Regions from separate parts of the Homo sapiens genome. Here region 1 is reported to be linked to region 2. The links are microRNA targets in miRTarBase. Many come from high-throughput screens and were not tested one by one. Region 2 holds a microRNA gene; the other region holds the end of a gene's coding sequence.

Region 1 (3,647 bases), not on the chromosome of region 2:
TAGAAACTTGGTCTGAGAGTTATGGTCTAGTAGACCTGGAATCCACAATGTAAAAGTTGGCCAGCTCCTGGCCATATATCCTAAAAAAGAGCTGGCATGTTATTGGGAAGATAAAGTGGGGGAAATCTGGCTTACTGGGCCCTATAGTAATGCTGTCTATGTATGTGTGCTCTCTCAAAAACAGGTAAAGTCCTTCCTGGGGTGGATGCTCTCAGCAATATTTAGTACTTTCCTGCCTTTTAGTTCCTGTGCACAGCCCCTAAGTCAACTTAGCATTTTCTGCATCTCCACTTGGCATTAGCTAAAACCTTCCATGTCAAGATTCAGCTAGTGGCCAAGAGATGCAGTGCCAGGAACCCTTAAACAGTTGCACAGCATCTCAGCTCATCTTCACTGCACCCTGGATTTGCATACATTCTTCAAGATCCCATTTGAATTTTTTAGTGACTAAACCATTGTGCATTCTAGAGTGCATATATTTATATTTTGCCTGTTAAAAAGAAAGTGAGCAGTGTTAGCTTAGTTCTCTTTTGATGTAGGTTATTATGATTAGCTTTGTCACTGTTTCACTACTCAGCATGGAAACAAGATGAAATTCCATTTGTAGGTAGTGAGACAAAATTGATGATCCATTAAGTAAACAATAAAAGTGTCCATTGAAACCGTGATTTTTTTTTTTTTCCTGTCATACTTTGTTAGGAAGGGTGAGAATAGAATCTTGAGGAACGGATCAGATGTCTATATTGCTGAATGCAAGAAGTGGGGCAGCAGCAGTGGAGAGATGGGACAATTAGATAAATGTCCATTCTTTATCAAGGGCCTACTTTATGGCAGACATTGTGCTAGTGCTTTTATTCTAACTTTTATTTTTATCAGTTACACATGATCATAATTTAAAAAGTCAAGGCTTATAACAAAAAAGCCCCAGCCCATTCCTCCCATTCAAGATTCCCACTCCCCAGAGGTGACCACTTTCAACTCTTGAGTTTTTCAGGTATATACCTCCATGTTTCTAAGTAATATGCTTATATTGTTCACTTCTTTTTTTTTTATTTTTTAAAGAAATCTATTTCATACCATGGAGGAAGGCTCTGTTCCACATATATTTCCACTTCTTCATTCTCTCGGTATAGTTTTGTCACAATTATAGATTAGATCAAAAGTCTACATAACTAATACAGCTGAGCTATGTAGTATGCTATGATTAAATTTACTTATGTAACTTTTATTGTCTTTGGCATTAACAGTGTTTCAAAAAATTTTCTGTGTATACCCATCAGTGATTCATTCCCAAATCTTCTAGAAGCATAAGTGTCTCAATATATTAAAACATATTGAATAATCCTTGTTAGAGTTATCCCTGCAGGAGTCCTTAGTGCTCCTTTATCCAATTTGTACTTGATGCCCTCTAGGCAGGGTGTACAGCTAGCTGTTGCTCTGGTATTTCCTATAACCTTCTTGGGGATTTCTTTTACCTCCTGTGTTAGACTCCTGTTTTCTGGATTCCCCCTTTTCCCTCTTTCTTGGTCTACTTTTTGTAGAACACAAGACTCTACTAGCTTCCTGAGAAAGGGTGCCTGGGAGGCAAAATCTCTAAGACTTTGTAAGTCTGAAAATGTCTTTATTCGACCCTTATACTTGATTCCTAGTTTGGCTATATATAGAATTTTAGCCTGAGTATCACTTTTTGAGACTCGAAGCCACTGTTTCATTGTCACTATTGAGAATCTAAATGGCCATTCGGATTCTTTCATCATCTTTATAATTTTACCTTCCTATTTCTTTCCTGTCCTTTTAATGGAGTTTTGGGAGAGAGCAGAGGTAAACATGATTTGAAAAAGCCATGTCTGACCAGAAATTCTGTGCTGGAAAGATATGTATTTCACCTTTAGGGACAAAGAAATAAACTTTTGGACAGGACCACAGAGCTAGTAAGTAACAGCAGGGATTCAAGTCCAGGTTTGTCTGGTTCCAGTGGCTGATGCTTTTCCAATGTGCCTCCGTCCCTGACATGATGCTTCTAGGCTATAGATGCTTCTAGACTCTATCCCTGACATGATGCTTCTAGACTATTTTGTTTAACCCTGGATAGAATAGCAAAAGAAAATTTTGGTGGTTGCTCTAAACAAAACAGAAATTTGAAAGCTCAAGTTTTTTCTTCATTTGTATTTTAGTTAATACTGTACCCATATTTGTAGTTAATTTTAAATTGTACCATGTTTCTGCATACCTCTATGGGTACTCAGGAATTCTAGTCCAATTTTTGTGACTTTTTCCTACTGATTACCTTTCCTCCAACGTTTTAAAAATTATTTCAAATGGAACTGAAAGAAGCATAAACTCCCATAAACCCAGCACCTAGACTCTACAATTGCCAACATTATCTATCCAACAATCTCTGACTGTACCTTTTAAGTACTTTCTACTGGACTGTTTCCAGGATCACCCCTCATTTATTTGGGTTGTTAACCTAAAGAATGAATGGGGGAATCTCCAGTCATAAACAACTTGTCAATTAGGCAAATATTTGAGTTCCTTCTATGTGCTTAAAGACGTGATAGAGGGAATATAAGAGCATTTATGTTCTGAAGGAATTTTTAACCTAACCAAAGAAGATAGTAGATAACTTGTGTGCATATAAGCTAGAACAGTATAAGGGGCCGGGCATGGTGGCTTACGCCTGTAATCCCAGGACTTTGGGAGGCCAAGGCGGGCAGATCACCTGTCAGGAGTTTGGGACCAGCCTGGCCAACATGGTGAAACCCCGTTTCTACCAAAAATACAAAAATTAGCCGGGCGTGGTGGCGTGTGCCACTGTAGTCCCAGCTATTCAGAAGGCTGAGGCAGGAGAATCACTTGAACCCGGGAGGTGGAGGTTGCAGTGAGCTGAGATCACGCTACTGCATTCCTGCTTGGGCGACAGAGTGAGACTCTGCCTCAAAACAAAAACCCCACAAAACAGTATAAGGATGTGCTTTCTAATTTGGAATTATGAATTATTGGTAAAATATTGCAAAGGTGTATGCTTTAAGTTGTAAATTCACCTTTAACCCTAGACTATATATGTGTGTTTATATGCAGAAAAAAATAATTCCCATGTCGTAAGTGAACAATTTGGTTCTTTAGCTCAGTGTTTTCCTGTTTTCTTCATTTCCAAAATTTCCCTCTAGCACAGGGGTTTACACATGATCAAAAAGGAGTATACAATGAAGACACCTTCCTCAGTCCCCTACCTACCAGTTTCCCTCCCCAGAAGCAACCTCTGGAAGACCAGTTTCTTTCAATCTAAGGCTATTTAATATACATTAAGAGGCCGGGCGCAGTGGCTCACGCCTGTAATCCCAACAACACTTTGGGAGGCCCAGGCAGGCGGGTCATGAGGTCAGGAGATTGAGACCATCCTGGCTAACACGGTGAAACCCTGTCTCTACTAAAAATACAAAAAATTAGCTGGGCGTGATGGTGGGCGCCTGTAGTCCCAGCTACTCGGGAGGCTGAGGCAGGAGAATGGCGTGAACCTGGGAAGCGGAGCTCGCAGTGAGCCGAGATCACGCCACTGCACTCCAGCCTGGGCAACAGTGAGACTCTGCATAAAGAGCATACCCATGTGTGTACCTATCTATCTATCTATCTATCTATCTATCTAT
Region 2 (4,236 bases):
GGGAACCCAAAGAGGTCCCCACAGGTAAGAGCAGAGAAAGGGGAAGAGGAAGCCCCCCAACCCTCTCAAGCTCAGTGGGCACCTCAGTGTGAAGCAGCTCCCGCCTCCGGCCCGGGGGCTCCGCTGTAAAGAGAGGGTGTGTGGTGAGGACAGGGTGGCCAGAGGCCCTGTGGGGGGCATAAATGGGGGCCCTCACCTGCCAGCAACAGCAGTAGCTCCCCCAGGCTGTGCTGGTACAGGTCCAGGGCATCCTGCTCCCCGCCGGCGGCCTCCTCCTGCAGCCACAAGGACACCAGGCTGCTTAGGGTCATGGCCTGGGTATCTCCCTGCCCTGCCCCGACCCACCTGGACCCCTCCCACTGGCACAAACCTTGGCCATGGCAGCTGAAGCCACTTCCAGGGCAGCTAGGAGGCGTGGCTTGTCCCGGGCCATCTCTGAGATGAGGGGAAAGGCTCAGGGTGAGGGAAGCAACCTGCCTGTTCGCTGCAGGATGCCTCTCCCCACCCGCCTCCCCCTCAGGCTGTGGGGAGGTTTGCTGGGGGCCCTGGGGTCAGCCAGAAACCGGAGTCTACCTCTGAGCAGGTCTCGGGCAGAGGTCCCCTGCCTCAGCAGGGCCTGATTGGAAGAGGAGACGATGGCCTTGAGCTCCTCAGCCCGGGACACGTACTGCCCCACCTGTAGCAGGGAAAGGGCCTGAGGAGGGGCTGTCTCACCAGCTACCCTTGCCAGAACCCACCTCCAAGTTCTCCCTTTGCATTGTTAGTGACTGCCTCAAGCTATAAACATGTCAGGGGGCAAATGTGGCTGGCCTGACCCATTCCCAGCTCTGTGTTGCAGGAGAGGAAGTTCCAATTCTAAGAGAGCCATTCCCCAGAGGCCCCCGAGATCTCCGGGCCTTACCCCCTGCCCCCCCACTTCCTCATGGGGACTCTCACCCACCTTTGCCTTAATTGCCTCCTTCCGCTGGGCATCCACTTCATCTGCAGAAAGTGAGGTCATATGAGGAGTCTGGGCGAACCCCTCCCTGCCCCACAACGAACCCTCTGGAATCCCTCAAAACACAATATTCCAGGTTTACGCTCTGCTTTATCGCCTACAAAATTCTAGATAGAGAACTTCTGGAATCCACCTACTGCAGCCACAGATGACTCCCATCCCTGCTGCACCCACGGGCTTCAGGCATGGCCTGGGACTCACAGTGCAGGGCAGGTACAAAGAAGTCCAGAGCCTTGCAGTAGAGTGATAAGGCAGCTGCTGAATCCCCCTCCTGGTCTTTCTTCACAGCCTGCACCACCAGGGCGGTCTGGGGATGGGCAGATCAGGGGTCAGGTCCACCTCCCTACCCTCCCACACTCACCAAGATGGGAGATCAGCTCCCCTGAGCCCGCCCTCTGTCTCTGTTGGGTGAGTCACCAATTCACCACCAACGGGGGCAAGGAGACCTCCAGCCCACCCTCAGCCCACCCCAGCCCCAGCCGTCTGCTCACTGCTCGCCCCAGACTCTCCCCACTGGGCATGTGCTCCAGGTCCACCCAGGGGTGCGCAAAAAAGTCCTGGAAGGAGATGCGACGGCTGGGGTCCCGCTCCAGGAGCCGCTGCAGTAGGTCCCGGCAGTCTCGGGAGAGCAGGGGCCGCAAGGGGAGCTGCAGGGAAGGGAACGGCAGGGACAGATCACACTGGGCTCCTCCACCCCTACCCCTAGCCCAGGGGTCTGCGAGGAACCCCAGAGGTACGCGTTGGACAGGTGGGGAATCTGAGACCGAGGAGGAACAGGATGGGTCAGGATGATGGAGCCAGCGGGGAGCGAGGCCTCCATCCCTGGGCTCCCGGTGCACCCTCGCTGGAGCCCTGAGCTGAGCTAGAATCGTGTTTCTGGGTCCTTATTTCCCTCCCTGGACTATGCTCCTAGGAAGGCTGGGCCTGGCTCTGCTTTGCATTCTCCCCACAAGGGCCTGCAAAATGGGCACTGTGCTGCCAGCTGTGGGCTGACCTGAGGCCCTGGGACAGCCTGGCACCTCGACTTCCAGCCTAGAACCTGCCCCTCCACCACAAAGGCAGCCTGGAGCCCATACTCCAGTCTCTGCAGGTCAGAACGAGGTCTAAACCCTCAGGGCCCTGACTCCCTCTGCCCCCCAGTGGTCGCTAAGGCCCTGCTAGACACACCTCGATGACCCGGTTGCTACGGATCTTCTCTTCCAGCTCCGAGAACGACCTGGAGGCAAAGGGGGGCTGCCCGAAGAGGGCTTCTGTGGAAGGGAGGCAGAGCGGAGGCTGGGAGGGAATGGGTCAAGCCTGGCCTGACGCCCCTCAGCAGGGGCCCTGGGCCAGCAGTCAGTTTTCATCAGAACCCTTCAGAAGTGGCCCAGAGAGGCCTTGCCTGAGGAAACTGTAGGCCTCAGGGTGAGAAGCAGGGAAAAGAGGTCTCACCATACAGGATGACCCCCATGGACCAGAGGTCCACGCGGGCGTCATACTGCCGCTGGCACACCATCTCGGGGGCCATGTAGAGGGGGGAGCCACGGAGCACGTGCTTCTCATCCCACGGGGACATGTGTTGTGCGAAACCAAAGTCTGCAGGCAAGAGGAGAGGCAGCAGGGCTTGAATTCCAGCTGCTTCAGCTCCTGACTTGTAAAGCCTCACCCCAGGCTCCTCTCCACCCTCCAGACCCGCCAGGATCAACCCTATTTCCAAGCCTCTGCTCATCATTAGGCTGGAACACCCTCCTATATCTGCCTCTGGGGTATAAAACCTACCCATCCTTCCCAGCTCCCTTGGGCACCTTTTCCTAGGAAGCCCACCTGATCACACCAGCTACCTGCATAAGCCCCCACCCTCTCACTGTCCCCCCAGGCTTAGGTTCTATCACAGTCTCTGGCCTCCAGTGTCAATTATCCAAATCTTATCAAGGGTCACCACCTCCTACTCCCCCACCACACCCCTCCTATGTGGCCACAGATGGAGTCACAGACTTGAGCCCCAATTCTGATGACAGACCAAGTCCTGTCCCTGCCCACAGAGGGATCCCTGATGCTTGTCACACGCTGAACCCTGGCACTGTTCCCAGATTGACCCCTAAACCTGGACACACAGTGAGTCCCAACTCTGGCCACAGACTGAGCCCTAACTCCACCCATTATGCTGCTGGACTTGAGCATGGGTAGCCTGAGAAAGCTTCCACCTTTTGATGACAGGGCCCAACCCCAGACTTCACGGCCTGTCACTCTTTGAGGACTCTATAGAGGGCTCCATAAGAACCAGGGCTGCTGAGTGAGCCCAGGCAGAGGGAGGCCTCTGCACTCTCCAAACCTCATCCCTGCTGTTTCAGACACAGACCTGCCAGTTTTAGGTGGGGCTTCTCCAAGGAGCTCAGTAGAATGTTCTGTGGCTTCAGATCCAGGTGAGAGATATTCCGTTCATGCAGGAATTGCAGGGCGCTAGCTGAGGAGCAGGACCCACGAAGAGAGACAGTTCAGAGCCCATTCCCGCCTGCCTCTCGCCTCCCCGGCTCACATCTGCCTCCTCAAGCCTGCACAACCCCAGTTCCTGCCTGGCTGGTCTAATGTTTTCCATATAAGCACCAAGATCACACCACTTCTAGGAGTTTGCCACCCCACCCGAGTGCCCACCCTCCTTCCCTCTGCCCCTTCACAAGTCTCCCCACCTCTCAGAAGCTTCTCTGGATGCCCCAGCCCTTGAGATCCTGCTCTTTTCCTTGGCACAGCACTTGAGTCCTACCTACAGGACTCTGGAATGTTCTACAAGGTCCTTATATTATGTTCTATGTATGGAAGCCTGAACACCCCACAGAGGGGTTACCCCCTCATCTCTCCCACAGCGTCCTTGAGCAAGGGTTGAGTGTATGAGATAAACAGGACCATAAAATTTCAGGCTGTGCAGGAGGCAGCTGCAATGCGTGCCAAGGCTCTAAGCCTGGGGGAGGGGTGGGATGGTGGGGGGCAGAGAACAAGGGACAGAGTGTCAGGCTGGTGTCACAGGCCTTTACCTAATTGCTGCATGAAGACACGCGCCACCTTCTCAGGCAGAATCCTGCGGGTATGGATGAAGCGAGACAGGTCGCCCCCTGCGCAAAACTCCATGATGAGGTAGATATTGTCACTGTCCCACTGTGTTTAGAGGCAGAGAGGCGGCCTGAAGAGAGTGTCCCTTCTCCAGCTCCCTTTGGCAGCGGCCCCGCCCCAGGCTCACACCTGAAAGTCTTTCAGCTGCACAATGT

Evidence for each region. The annotated mature microRNA hsa-miR-6882-3p reads UGCUGCCUCUCCUCUUGCCUGCAG and lies in region 2 at 2,573-2,596, opposite strand. An mRNA with a match to its seed (bases 2 to 7 or 8) in the 3' UTR can be bound and repressed. Matches are read on the target gene's strand: a 7mer-m8 pairs with bases 2 to 8, a 7mer-A1 pairs with bases 2 to 7 and ends in A, and an 8mer does both.
Region 1: the mRNA of PGK1 is a reported target of hsa-miR-6882-3p. Seed matches in the 3' UTR shown: 7mer-A1 at 764-770.

The regions. Positions count from the first base shown.
Region 1 is chrX:78,125,606-78,129,252 of GRCh38, forward strand. PGK1 (phosphoglycerate kinase 1) reads left to right here. Exons shown (of 11, transcript NM_000291.4): 11 at 185-3,647. The coding sequence ends at 225. Among named protein-coding and RNA genes, the nearest start is that of TAF9B, 12 kb to the right of the region's middle.
Region 2 is chr15:74,838,070-74,842,305 of GRCh38, forward strand. It overlaps MIR6882 (microRNA 6882), which reads right to left and starts at 2,638; the gene lies at 2,573-2,638. It overlaps ULK3 (unc-51 like kinase 3), which reads right to left. Exons shown (of 16, transcript NM_001099436.4): 2 at 4,211-4,236; 3 at 4,006-4,126; 4 at 3,336-3,440; 5 at 2,429-2,572; 6 at 2,165-2,247; 7 at 1,489-1,644; 8 at 1,199-1,304; 9 at 941-981; 10 at 574-676; 11 at 371-435; 12 at 197-275; 13 at 83-123. RefSeq lists a silencer at 1,457-1,604 and an enhancer at 4,081-4,236.